3 linked regions of the Homo sapiens genome follow. The protein of the gene in region 3 purifies or fractionates together with the protein of the main gene of each other region. This does not show direct contact. Each region holds a gene or a part of one and is shown on either strand. Other genes may lie near its edges.

What was found. The genes of interacting proteins can lie anywhere in the genome.
Region 1: the proteins of MIPEP (region 3) and FARSB fractionate together in Homo sapiens (co-fractionation; one large-scale study listed by BioGRID). This does not show direct contact.
Region 2: the proteins of MIPEP (region 3) and ZFAND3 fractionate together in Homo sapiens (co-fractionation; one large-scale study listed by BioGRID). This does not show direct contact.

The regions. Positions count from the first base shown.
Region 1 is NC_000002.12:222,645,000-222,649,650, reverse strand, and holds part of FARSB (phenylalanine--tRNA ligase beta subunit), read left to right. Parts: intron 1-855; coding exon 856-911; intron 912-1,525; exon of another isoform or gene 1,526-1,810; intron 1,811-2,654; exon of another isoform or gene 2,655-2,850; intron 2,851-3,304; exon of another isoform or gene 3,305-4,029; intron 4,030-4,651.
Region 2 is NC_000006.12:38,060,669-38,065,319, reverse strand, and holds part of ZFAND3 (AN1-type zinc finger protein 3), read right to left. Parts: intron 3,728-4,651; coding exon 3,545-3,727; intron 1-3,544.
Region 3 is NC_000013.11:23,836,634-23,841,892, forward strand, and holds part of MIPEP (mitochondrial intermediate peptidase), read right to left. Parts: intron 4,856-5,259; coding exon 4,702-4,855; intron 3,094-4,701; coding exon 3,016-3,093; intron 1,124-3,015; coding exon 919-1,123; intron 1-918. UniProt on the Homo sapiens protein: Cleaves proteins, imported into the mitochondrion, to their mature size.

The sequences.
Region 1 (4,651 bases), on a different chromosome or scaffold from region 3:
CCATAATGGCTGTGAAATACCATTTTATAGATGAGGCAGCTGTAATGTTGACACAAGATACCAAGAAAGTTTACATAAGGTGCCAAACTCTCAGATCTAATAAGTGGGATAGAATTCAAACTCTGATTGACTTGGCTTCAAAGCCAAAAGTGTCAGGCCACCTCAGACCATTTTACCTGATAGGACTTATGTGACATTCTGTTGTGTGAGATCTGTGATTTGGAGCCTACTTTATATCTGATCTCTACTTAACAGGTGAACAGGTGTTTTTCTTCTGTGTACATGCAAACTTCCCAGTGCAGGTAACCTAAACTACAGTTGATATTAGTGTAGATTAATCAAGCCTTTAATAGTTTTTTCTTTTTTTTATCTTAAATTTTTTTGGCCCAGCTTTTTTTTTTTTTTTTTTTTTTTTTAATTTTTTGAGACGGAGTCTCGCTCTTGTCAGCCAGGCTGGAGTGCAATGTCATGATCTCGGCTCACTGCAACCTCTGCCTCCCAGGTTCAAGCAATTCTCCTGCCTCAGCCTCCCAAGTAGCTGGGATTACAGGCATGCGCCACCATGCCTGGCTAATTTTGTATTTTTAGTAGAGACAGGGTTTCACCGTGTTGGCCAGGCTGGTTTCAAACTCCTGACCTCAGATGATCCACACACATTGGCCTCCCAAAGTGCTGGGATTACAGGCATGAGCCACCATGCCTGGCCTGTTTGTTTTTAAATGATAATATGTGATGCCTGATATTTAGTAGTATGATTGGTGTAAGGCAATTAGTAATAAGAAAATGCAGTTTGTATGTAGTTTTCACTTATACTGAACAGAGTGAAATTAACCATCTCCTTTTTTATTTTCCTAGCTGACGAAGAATTTGATGAACTATGTTTTGAATTTGGTCTGGAGCTTGATGAAATTGTATGTATTGGATATTTGTCTATTTTTCAAAGATTGTGTGCATAAGCTTATTTTTCAGGGTTATACTGTATTTCATCTTTGTTACCTTATAGTTAGACTAAGGTGATAATGTTTGTGGGCCATGATTTCTGTGTTCAGAGGGCTAAGCTCCATGTCTGTCTGTTGCCTTGACTAAAATCTCAAAAGGAGTTCATGCCTTATTCCATCTACAATCACCTTGTTACCAGGCTCATGCTGTGGAAATGGATAGAATGTGTTAGATAACCCCAGTATGAAAGTAAGCTCCCTCCTTTGGCAAATTAATCACAGAAAGGGACCAAGAAGCAGTAGAAATGTTGCTTCAACCAGAGTTACCCTGCCTCCTTCACTTCCAGCGCCTCCTCCTTCAGCTCCTCTGCCCCCATAACCTTCCTCCGTGCCTCTTCAACCAGTACTAATGCATTACTATATTCATTGGTCTTGTAAAATGAACTAATATTTTTTAAGGACTTGCTTATAAAAATGAGGAAGCATTTTCTTTGACTTTTGATTGTATAATGATTACAATATTTAAAAAAATCAAGTCGGCTATACATTTTAATATTGTTAATAATGATTATCTATTAAAGACATACTTTAATTTGGTGGGGTTGGGGGTCTGAGTCCTTCCTCGCGGGGGCTTGATGGGTCCTGAGCATCCTCTGGCCGGGGTTTCTGATCCATCTGCTCCAGCATAAGTTCACAAAGTACAGTCCGCAGGCCAGCAGCATCATCTGGGAACTTAGGAAAAAACCAGCCCTACTGAACCAGAAACTGGGGATGTGGCCCAAGCAACCTTTTACCAAGCCCTCCAGGTGATTATAATGCAAGGAGAGACGAGGTTTTACCATGTTGGCCAGGCTGGTTCTCGAACTGCTGACCTCAAGTGATCCACTGCTTTGGCCTCCCAAAGTGCTGAGATTACAGGTGTGAGCCACCATGCCTGGCCCAATGTGCTTTATATAGTTTCACTCTGTTGCCCAGGCTGGAGTGCGACAGCGCGATCTTGGCTCACCACAACCTCCTCCTCTTGGGTTCAGGCGATTCTCCTGCCTCAGCCTCCTGAGTAGCTGGGATTACAGGAAGGAGTCCTTATCTTGGACCTGAGGCTGCTTTCTTGAAGAAAACTTGACTTTATTTCATTTAGTGGGAAGAGCAGCAGCCCAGCTAATAAGTTCTAATATGCAATAGGCTGCAGGCTGTGAAGTCTGAAGCTAAGGAGCTGAGGGCTTAACAAGTTTCTAGAAGCTGCCATCAACATGCCAAGTCAGTAAAACTGAAAGCTGGTCAGATTTCAAGGTCTGGGGAGGAATCCACTGCATAGTGGGTCTTGAGCTCTAGAGAGCTAGGCCTTGCTAAAATAAAAGAATTACCTTACCTACCATCTTTGTTCCAGGCTCCGTAGAATTTGTGACAGCCCTGGCTGACCTCCGAGCAGAGGCTAGCTGTCCCATCTGTCTGGACTACTTGAAAGACCCAGTGACCATCAGCTGTGGGCATAACTTCTGTCTCTCCTGCATCATTATGTCCTGGAAGGATCTAGATGATAGTTTCCCCTGCCCCTTTTGCCACTTGTGCTGTCCAGAAAGGAAATTTATAAGCAATCCCCAGCTGGGTAGTTTGACTGAAATTGCTAAGCAACTCCAGCTAAGAAGCAAGAGGAAGAGGCAGGAAGAGAAGCATGTGTGTAAGAAGCATAATCAGGTTTTGACTTTCTTCTCTCAGAAAGACCTAGAGCTTTTATGTCCAAGGTGCAGTTTGTCCACTGATCACCAGCATCGCTGTGTTTGGCCCATAAAGAAGGCTGCCTCCTATCAGGAAAAAACTGGAGCAATACAATGCACCGTGGAAGGAGAGAGTGGAACTAATTGAAAAAGTCATAACTATACAAACCAGAAAATCACTGGAACTGAAGAAAAAGGTAAAACATACGGCAGAAGAAGTCAAGTCTGAATTTGAGCAACTTAGGTTATTTCTGCAAAATGAGCAAGAGACTGTTTTTGGGCAATTACAAGATGACGAGATGGATATTTTAGCACAACTAAATGAAAGCCTAACAAAATTTTCAGATTATACCTCCTCATTAAAATATCTACTAAAGAAGATAGAGAGCATATATGTGAAGTCAGAACTGGAATTACTGGCTGATGTTAAGGATATCTATCACAGACATAAGAATTTAAAATTCCCTAAACCTTTTTTATTCAAATTAAAAGAATATGGTTACCATCTGTCTCCACAATATTGTGGCCAAAACAAAATTATCAAGCGATTTCAAGTAGATGTAATTCTAGATCCTGAAGCAGCACATCGTAAACTTATAGTCTCAGAAGATAGAAAAACTGTGCGATATGGAAATACAACACAAAACTTACCTCATAACCCAAGAAGATTTTATCTGCTCCCAGCTGTTCTGGGTTCTAAGGGATAAAATTGTGGCAGGCAGTACCGGGAAGTAGAAGTTAAAGACATGCCTGAATGGATTCTTGGTGTCTGTAGTGACTCTCCTCCCACAAGGAGGAAGAGTCAACCAATTTTAGTACAGGATGGATTATGGAGAATTTGGTAATCTAGTCGGAATAATTATATTGTATTGGGCCATAAGGAAATTATTCTGCTGCCAAAAGTAACACCTAGTAAGATTGGCATTTTTTTAGACTGTGAAATGAATGAGGTTTCCTTTTATAATTTGAATGATAGATCTCTTCTCTGTACTTTTAATGATGATTTTACAGGAGAACTTTGGCCTTATTTTTATACTGGAACTGACTCAAAACCTCTTAAAATTTCTACAGTAACAGATTCTGTATTTTCTTTCACCTAGTAGACATAACTGAGCCAGTTAATCTAGTTTTGGCCATTCTGTATTTTGTCCAGTTTTTCTCATAAAAAAACAATATTTTTTATCTCAATTTCAGCAACTTCCAAAAAATGTGATTATGGGACCTACTTTATAATAAATTATGGGGTCAATGACAAAGTACTTTAGAAATTCTATGGTAAAATACTTGAAAAATATATTACTGAAGGAACGTATTATGTAAGAAAATCTATTACTTTTGTAATTGCCAATAAAAGCCCAATTTTTTTCTCAAAAAAAAAAAAAGACATACTTTAATTTAAAAGATAATTTTCTGATAGTTAGTATTATTTTTTTCCTAAGCCTTCTATCTTCACCTATTCAGTGCTTTTATAACACTACCTTAGGTGTAAAGTTAAAAAATGTTCAGGCTAAAAAATTGTACATTATCTTACCTTATTTTTCCTGCTGCCTTACTAATGTTACAGAAAGATCATCTTTGTACTAATCTATTTGTATACTTGAGAAATTGGCTGAGATTTCTGTAGTTTATAAGTTGCTATTCGTAATTTTACTACACCTCAGAATTATGTTTGAAATTATGTGATATCTAAGAGTGTTGGACTGGATGTTAGATTATTTGAGTTCTAGTTCTAACATTTACTAGCTGTGTAACTATGGACAATTACTTTGCCTGTCTGAACTCTATAGTCCAGACGAGTCTCTCTGGGCCTCCTTTTCATTTGTGAAATAAGGGGTTTGGATTATATGATCTTTATGGTTTTCTTTTTTGACTCTGAAATTTATGTGATTTTAAATTTCTGTAAGATTATTGTCAGGTAGCACTGACAAATTCAGTCTTTACATATGGTCATTGTATGAGCTGAGATGCTGAAACTGAAAGAAGATGTAAGCTTCTGTG
Region 2 (4,651 bases), on a different chromosome or scaffold from region 3:
TTTTGTGAGACAGAGTCCCACTCTGTCGCCAGGCTGGAGTGCAGTGGAGTGATCTCGGCTCACTGCAACCTCACCTCCCGGGTTCAAGCGATTCCCCTGCCTCAGCCTCCCGAGTAGCTGGGACTACAGGTGCGCACTACCATGCTCGGCTAATTTTTGTATTTTTGTAGAGACGGGGTTTCACCAGGTTGGCCAGGATGGTCTTGATCTCTTCACCTTGTGATCTGCTCGCATCGGCCTCCCAAAATGCTGGGATTACAGGCGTGAGCCATGTGCCCAGCCCTCCCTGCTTTTCTTTGCTCTCACTCTTGGCAACCTCACTTAACACCTATGGCTTAAACTATCATCTCCATGTGGATGAAGCCAATCTTGACTTCACTCCTCTGAGCTCCAACTCAACCTGCCCAGTTGCACACAATACAAACTTAAGTCATCACCATATCTCCAACTGGCAAATCTCATTTCCCTAGATCTGTAGAAACTTGAGGAATTAGGAAAGAGATTAGCTTCAGAGAGTATAAGTCTAAGAGAAACATACAATGGTTCAAAGCAATGATGTCACCAAGAAGAGAGAGAAAGGAAACGAAGCTAGTAGAACTAGACATCTTTAATCAGGCTGAAGGTATTCATATTAAAAAAAAAAAAAAAAAAAAGCCCATAGCAGTCTACAGTGGCCTAAACTGGCAAGTAACTCTTGGTTATGATGTGGATTTCCACATATCTTAATGACAGGGAGAGAAAGCATTCCTCTTGCCCACACAAATATTATTCTCTATGACAGTTGTATTTCACATTGTGAATTAACTGATTAAAAGTATGAACTCTGAAGCCAAATGCCTAAATTTGAATCCTGGTTCTGGTATCTACTCGTTTGTGACCACAGGCAAATTACTTAATCTTTTTGTGTCTAATTCCTCATCTATGGAATGAGTATAATGACACTATCTACCTCATTGGGTTATCACGAAAAACAATGAGAAAATATGCATGTAGAATAATGTCTCATATACAAAGTGCTCAATAAATGGTAGCTACTGTTATCTCAGCCTCACATGCATTTTGGTGGCTTGAATTGATTTGTGGTGGCCCGATCCTGGTATGCACGAATCCAATCCAGTTTCCATCAGATGAGATCCTGACCAACTTTTTCCTTAGACCAGGAGTTCTTAACCCAAGGGCCATAATAAGCTGTAGAGAAATTTTATGCAAAATTGGGTATAAATGGATGGTGTATATTTTTCTAGGACAAGAGGCCACAGCTGTCATCAACTCCTCAGTAAGTACATGATCTTGAAAAGATTTTTTAAAACAAAACAAAATCTACTGCCTTAGCATGACCACTACCATTTTCACCGTTTTTTTTTTTCTCCTCTTATATGATTTCTACACCTTGGCCTCTATTCAATAAGTTATAATATTTAAAAAATTCTTTCTTTGCAATGTTATTCCTGTTTAATCCTTTCCATTTTCAATACAACCAAGGTTACTTCTCCAAAGAACTGTAATAATATCACCTCCTCTGCTCAAAAACATGGCTACTGTCTCAAGTCCAAATAGCTTAGCTGGACATTTAGCCTCTATGTCTTGGCCACAACTTACCCTTCCAGCCTTGTCTTTCATTCTCTTCCACAAATGGCCCTAAGACAGTCATTTGCCATTGAGAAACTCCATGCAGCTTTCCTTCCACAGCTCATTCTACTCTGTCTAGTATGTCTCTTCACCACCTTCTATCCATCTTTACCACCACTTCCTCAGTAGGTCAATGCCCTTCAACAGTTGCTGTCTTTAATACATAAGGACCAACATGGGTGTATGCAAACATGTATCAGGGTTTGTCAAGCTCATCATTACTGGTATCGTGAGCTGAATGATTTTTTGTTGCAGAGGACTGTCCTATGTGATGCAGGACATTTAGCAGCATTCCTGGTCTCCAGACATTATCAAATGTTCTGGGGCTGTGGGGTGGGAGATCACTCTTGGTTGATAACCACTGATAAACTACAACAAATATATTTAATTTCCCCTTCAAATTCTTTGAGGACAAAGACTATGACCTTGCTTATTTTATATTCTCGATATTACCAAATATAGCAGTTTATGACAGATTTAGATAAATATTTGTTTTCTGCTAACCTTTCCAAAGTTAGTATACAGAACACAGAACATTCTAACCTACTGTGTTTCTAGATATTCATGAAACTTGAAATACTAAATTTCAACTTAGCTTTCAAAGAAAAAAAAGGCCAGGTCTCACAAGGCTGCAGTGTAATGGTTAAGACCACAGTCCACTGTAACCCTGAACTCCTGGGCTCAAGAGATCCTCCTGCCTCAGCTTCCCAAGTAGCTGGGACCATAAACACACACCACCACGCCTGGCTAATTTTTTTTTTTTTTTGGTAGAGACAAGAGTCTCACCATGTTGTCTAGGCTGGTCTCAAATTCCTGGCCTCAAGCAATCCTCCTGGCTTGGCCAAGTAGAGCTTTTAAAAGGCAAAAACTACTATGTCATAATATCCCTATAATTTTCAACAAATACTATCAACTATATTTGTGCCCTAAAAGAGATGTATATCTCACATACCGCCAGGGATGGGGGATGGAGGGAAAGAGATGTATATTATGACATTATAAAAATTAAGCAGACAATGGGCTGGGCATGGTGGCTCATGCCTGTAATCCCAGTACTTTGGGAGACCAAGGTGGTTAGATCATTTGAGGTCAGGAGTTCGAGACCAGCTTGGCCAACATGGTGAGATCCTGTTTCTACTAATTAGCCAGGCATGGTGGCAGGCACCTGTAATGCCAGCTACTCAGGAGGCTGAGGCAGGAGAATCACTTGAACCCAGGAGGTAGAGGTTGCAGTCAGCTGAGATGGTACAACCGCACTCCAGCCTGGGCAACAGAGTGAGTATCTAAAAAAAAAAAAAAGAAATTAAGTAGACAGTGAACTTCTAACCTACATAATAGCATTCCAACACTGAAGACTTACAGAAGAGTAATACCATCTCCTCCTTCCTTTAAACATCCTATGTTCTATGAAGTATAGTGCTATCTCAGTTAAATGCTTAGAAACAGTCAAGGCCCAGTTAGTGACAGAGGTAAAGCTTCAATCTAAGGCTCCTAAATTAGGGTTTTAGGGTTAGAATCCCTTACTGGTCCCTTGCTGCATATTAGAAATCCTCTGCGGAGTTAAAAATAACAGATCCCTGGGCCTCCCTCCAGATCAATTAAATGAGAACGAGGGAATGGTGCTAAAGATTAAAATTGTTTTAAAAACCCCCAGTGGATTCTAATGTGCAGACATAGGTGAGAGCCACTGCTCTCTAGACTGGTTCAAACTTCATGTACTTTGACGGTATAAAAGGCTATTTCTTCAGGAATGGCTGAAACTTATTCTCTAACTTGCTGAGCTTGGGCCTTGTATGTGGACACTTATCTTGAATTAAAAGAAGTGCTGTTTTTTCTGGGGTCAGGCATTACCAAGATGCTCATCTAAAGTTCTTAAGCTGCTCTCTCTACCACCCCTCAGAAGCCAGACACTTACACTCCTCTTTACTCGGTGAAGTTACATTCAGTTCTGTCGGAAGCGGCTGCTGGCTGGGACTAAGAGTTGGCGTGGTTATCGAGGTATTGTTGTTGTCACTGGTGGTCTCTTCGGAAAACAAATCTGATTGGCTGTTACTTGTACTTGGAGCGGAATCATCGTCTGGCTGTTTCTTTTGAAAATCTGAAGAAAAATAGAAAACGAGCTTAATTAAGGAGTTCACAGTCTCTGAGGATTAGAAAACAATGGAAGTTGGTACAAAAATTAAATGCAACAACACCAATAATAAAGACTGATCTGGGTGACTAAAAAACCATGGGAGTAAAACACTGGTCAAAAACGTTTAAGATTAGTGGAAGGTACTAGAGTTAAAAGTTTTCCAAGGTCCCTTATTATTCAGAAGAATGCAAACATACTGATTTTAACATTCTGTGCAAAGCCAAAGACGCATGTTAAAAATTTAAGGGTAATCAGAAGGAAAAAGGGAATAAAGAATAGTTTTTCAAACTTTTCAGAAGGAAAGGTCATAAGGAAAAAGGCAGCAGAGAAAACAGCAGAGTAAACAGAAAACACATAATAAGATGGTAGAAATAAGTACAAATATGTCAGTAATGGTAATAAATGTAAACAGACTGAACTTATCAGCTAAAAGGCAGAATATTTGGACTAAATGAAGTCCAGTTGTATTCAATTTACAAGGGACATACTAAAAACATAAATATGAGAGGATAAACAAAATGTTAAAGTATAGTTAATCCTTGAACATCATGGGTTTGAACCGTGTGGGTCCACTTGCACGTGGATTTTTTTCAACCAAATGCAGATCAAAAATACAATATTCACGGGATGCAAAAATCATATATGGAAGGCCTACTTTCCATATACGATGGTTCTGCAGTGCAGACTGATGAACCTGAGTATGCACAGATTTTGGTATATGCAGGGGAGTCCTGTAGCCAATCTCCCAAGTATAACACAATCGTATATAAAAAAAAATGTACCTGGCAAATAAATATAAATGAACAGGCAGGGCACAGTAGCTCACGCCTATAATCTTAGCATTTTTGAAGACTGAGGCGGGAGGACTGCTTGAGGCCTGAAGTTTGA
Region 3 (5,259 bases):
CTATGCTGGCTATACATGAAACAGATTAAAACATTTCTAATATTAATATAGCGTTTGTATTTAATTCACTAAATTCCATTACCTAATACTTTTATCCTTCCTTTGTTTTACAAGTACTTTATTTTATCCATTTATTGCTTTTTGTAACAAAGTCAATTCTCAGTGAGGAAAAGAAATATTTTAAACTCAAAATTACTTAAAGTAACAAATCCTGTAAGAAATTTAGATGACATTTAACGATTGTGTTCAGCCCACCTACAGTCTTTTCAATACCTTCTCCTTGTCCAAAATACTGTGTGTAAAGTTAGTTAACAAATGCTGGATGCCAACAATTCACTAGTGGTCTAATGCTGACCATATGTGATAGGGAGCTTAAGACTTAAGGATAAGACAATGAAGAAGGAAGTCTGTAATATCACAAAATATAGCCACATAGCAGCATAAAAACTACAAAGCAGAACTATGATTTTATACAGGGGAAAGTATATGAAAAATTAAAAGGACTTCATCATACTTTTTAAGCATGCTTTATTTTCTTCTCTGATTTTGAATATAAAGAGAGACCATTCATTCACTTACTTATTAACTCTGTGGGAGGTATTAAGGAGATACGTTTTTATTCACACACACATAGCCACAAACTTAAATTCAATATAAAACACTGTAAAATGTAAAAAGGGACAAACTTGAAAGACAACTGAGATTATTCCCTGGTGAAAGCTGTTAGCAAGCATGGAAAAAAGCATGGAAGATCAGGCTGCACAACCATGGGGAGGGCAGGATGAGGCAATCTGAGATAAAGACCACAGGACACGGTAAAATGATCACATTTTCCAAATAAAAAGCCCCTTTCCCAATTCAAAGAAAATGTATGTTTGTAAAGGACTGTAGTAAATAAAAGCCCTCCTCATGGCTCACCAGTGACGTGTTGGTAACGAGTACGTCCTAGCATTGAATGCATGGCATGTCCCATTTCATGGAAAAGATTTTCCATCATGCTAGGAGTTAGCAAAGTTGGAGAACTCCTTGAGGAACGGGGAAGATTCAGCATAAGAACTACAACTGGGAGTTGATAGTCTCCATCTTCCTTTAGTCTGCCTCCACGGATAGTGAAATGGCAATCCTTTAAGAATCAGAAAACATAAAAGGAAAAGAAAGTATTTGGTAATGTGAAGAGTAAAACAGTCTTAATGAATATAAAATTTCACCAAAAATGTGTGAGTGCAAACTTTAACTTAATTATATTCTTATTCTATCTATTTACATATATACACCTTTTCTTGACATTTTTTATTCTGCTAAAATTTTAATTTTTTAAAACATCAAGAACACATTCAGTTTCTATGGATTAACTCATTACTTTGGTCCCAAAACATGCATTGAAATGATGCTGTGCCAGAAGCTGGAAACAAAGTCAGCAAAGAACTTACGAAGGGACACTAACATTTATTCTGAGTCCCTACTATGTGTCAGATAATGAACTAGTAGGTACTTTCCATGTCTCTTGGCTATTTTTTTTTCTTTTTTTAAGATAGGGTCTTGCTCTGTTGCCCAGGCTGGAGTGCAGTGTTGTGATCGCAGTTCACTGCAGCCTGGACCTCCTGGGCTCAAGCCATCCTCCTGCTTTGGCCTACTGATTGGCTGGGACTACAGGTGTGCTCCACCACACCCAGCTAAATTTTTAGATTTTTTTTTGTACAGATGGAGTCTTACTATGTTGCCAGGGCTGGTCTTGAACTCCTGGACTGAAGTGATCTGCCAGCCTCAGCCTCCTAAAGTTCTGGGATTACAGGCATGAGCCACCGCGCCCAGCCTCTCTTGACTTTTATCACTTGAACGAGATGGGATCTAAACTAGTGTAAAGCAAGGGATCCGGAGCCAGAATAACTTACTCTGAAACAGGCACTACACTGAGACTCACATACACTGTATCACTTATTCTCCACAACAACCCTATGTAGCAGGTATCTCACTTTTCAGATGATAAAACTAAAACTAGTCTTAGGATTATTAAATAACATGTCCAAGGACACCTAGCTAGAACTGCCACACCTTGGATCTGAACCCAGGCTGACTATTAGGAGCCAGGGCTCCTAATCACTAAAGTTGAGTCTCCACCACCCACCCATTTAAGCAAAGAGGAAGAACACTGGCCTCAGAGTCTGGTGACCTGCACCCTGTTCCTACCTTTCACACCTACTAGACAAATCATCTCGGAAAATAATTTGCTTCTGCAAGCCTCATCTCTAAAATGCTTCCTTGTCAAATCCCACAGTGGCTGTCCAGAATTCATAAGCTCACATCTGTTAAAATCTGTGCTTTGGAAATTGTGAATCACTATTCAAACATAAGGTACATTATTTCTGTTATAACTTATAACCTAAACTCTTGACATTTCCCATCAAGCTACATGAAACTGCTAAAGCTGACTGGCTGTCAAAGTCGGCCAATGCTAAAGAAAAGGAGATGAGCTGCCTCAAGTCTTCCACATAAGGAGCTACTTGGTGGTTGGTAAGGTTTCCACATGGAGTATCTTCCGCAGTTTTAGAATAGGTTCATTGTCGAGTATGGAAAAGAGTTAAAAGTTGGGGATCTGCTCAGGATGTATGCCTTCAAGTCCTAGCACTTCTGGCCAAGTAGCTTAACCTCTATGGCTTCAGTTTCCTCATAATGTGAGTAACTAGTCAAAAGGGTGAGGCGAACATTAAAAGGCTGATGTGTATAACGGGCTCAGTGCACTGTTTGGCACAAATAAGGATTCATAAAATGTCAGTTGTCATTGTTACTATAATTAATACCATGACCCAGATAAAAGTGACAAATATAGACTGATGTAATTATTTCCATAAACTTTTTAATTTTAAAATTCTATCTTAATTTCAAATGTATATATTTGGTAACCATCATTAGTAACTTTTAAATGTCATGGAATTTAAAAAATGATACAAAGTTCACATCAATACAAATGAAATGCCGATCGGTTCTAGAGAGACCAGTTTATAAAGAAAGGATCACCTGATGTGGTTTGTCTGCTCGCTGAAAAAAATCACAGTAAATGTACCCCAACAATCCTTCAGATTCATGAACAACAGCCTAGAAAAAAAAATTTAAATTTGGTGGTAAATGAGGCCATCTGATTCTCTAAAATCCCTAACACAAGAATCTGTATATTAAACATCCATAGCCACACATATAGACATTTTAATTACATTCTACACCCCACATTATCTCGAGATAGATTCTCTTTTCCCCGCATCCTCTTCTGCTCCATCTCTTGAATGATTTTGGTTTTGGAATTCTGTGTCCAGGACAGGAAATCCTCCTCATGAGGGCCTTTTGTCCTGACTGCCTATCCTCTACAATACCTTTACTAACCACCCACAAGAGCTGGGAAGAAGTGCTGGCTGGACAATTTTAGGAGCAAATTATTTTTCCTTCAAATCCTGGAATGTCGTGATATACGCCCAAGCAAATTATAACCCTTGAATTTGAAAACACCACAATGCAGCTCCCAGCTTGAGTTAAAAATCAGCAATATTACTATCTATCCCCTCTCCAAGAGACATAGCTTATAGGAGAGACTCAATCACTACTCTCCATCTTGCCTTCTTTGTTCTTTCAGAATTTAATGATTCCATCAAAGAGAACCCCGATTTTGTGCTTTAAAACTACCTGCAAGTATATATTTATTGTTCATCAAACATCTGTTAAGCACCTACTTGGTGCCAGGAACTCTTCAAGACACTGAGGATACAGAAGTGAATGCAACTGACAACAGTGCTGGACCCCGGTGGAGTGCACATTCTGCAGTTCTGGGGAAACCCTTCATCACCCGCATTTTGTCCTCTCAGTCTCCTCTTATAAATTTTTCTTTTTATTATATCTCAGCATTTTATCAATCTCTATCTTTTTTGGAAGTTTGTAATACAGATAGTGAAGTAAATCAATGCAGTGATGAACGTCCTCCCACCCTGACTCTCCTTTCAATCCCACCACCACACCTACTCTCCACTCACAAGACGTGGCCGAGAGACAATGAGACTGTTTACATTTCTTAAAATATAGTGAAGAAAGCAGTGTGGTAAGCATGCTAGCAAAAATCAAACAACAAAACAATACAAAGCCTTAGTGACACACACAGGTCAACAAAGCCTCAAATCCTATGAGGAAAAATTTAAAATATTCATGCCTCATATAAAGTGGGCCTTCACAGGAGAAAGATGATTGCTAGGTTTGAAGTTATTATCAAAGAAGTTAAATAAATCAGAACACGGACGTAAATTAATATCTGATGCAAATATAAGCCCCTACAACATGGGATGGGGGTTGGAGAGAAAAAAGGTCACTTATCCAATGGATTTGGGAATTAACCAAAACGGACACACAGCTATGAAGGTATATACAAAGTAAAGGACAATTTTCCTATAAATAGAATTTGTGGATATATGAAGGTGCATATATATTCAACCTTCTATCAAGTTCCAAAAAACTTTTTTAGAAAACTCTGCTGTTTTATGTTTGGATCCTTTATACAGTGTCTTAAATCAGAAGTGCAATTTGGATTTTTTTTGTGAAGCAGAAATAAGGCAGGGGACACACTCAGTCAGGGCAAAGTTGATGTAAACCTGAAACTGCTGTTGACTCAACTGCCCAACCGAAAGGTAAATGCCTGCAACTGCAGGCTGAGCAGGAGGAGCTCACCAGTTTTCGGACATCTTCGCTCCACACCTCTCCTTTTGCAGGCTGCTCTGCATATAATGAAATCCCCAACAGTCTGTTAAGCAAAATATTCAGGCCTTCCATGCATGCTCCAAGAGAGAAAAACGGGCAATATAGGCTGGGCTCAATATTATACCTAAGAGAAGGAAGAGAGGTTCAACAGCATCTTTGTTTATTTCAATTTCTGAAGGTAAATTCAATTAACTTTTCATTTAATACTTAAGATCACTGGAGCTAAAGAAGGATTCAAAACATAAAAGTGTATTTATATCATTTGAGGGGTTTTCAGACAGTTTTCTTCAGAATGACAGTCTGATTATTACTAGTGTTAGTTATAAGTCAGTAATTAAGGTAGATATATCATTCCCTAACCTTTGTCCCTTCCCTGTTATTTACTCTTTCACTAACCCAATTAAGCAGTCTCAACTGCTCACTGTATACATTCCTTATACATACTTACATGCAAAATATGATCAGTTTCAGTTATAATGGTAACTCTTACCTTATGAATTATATTCTAGAAACTTGTGACCTATATAC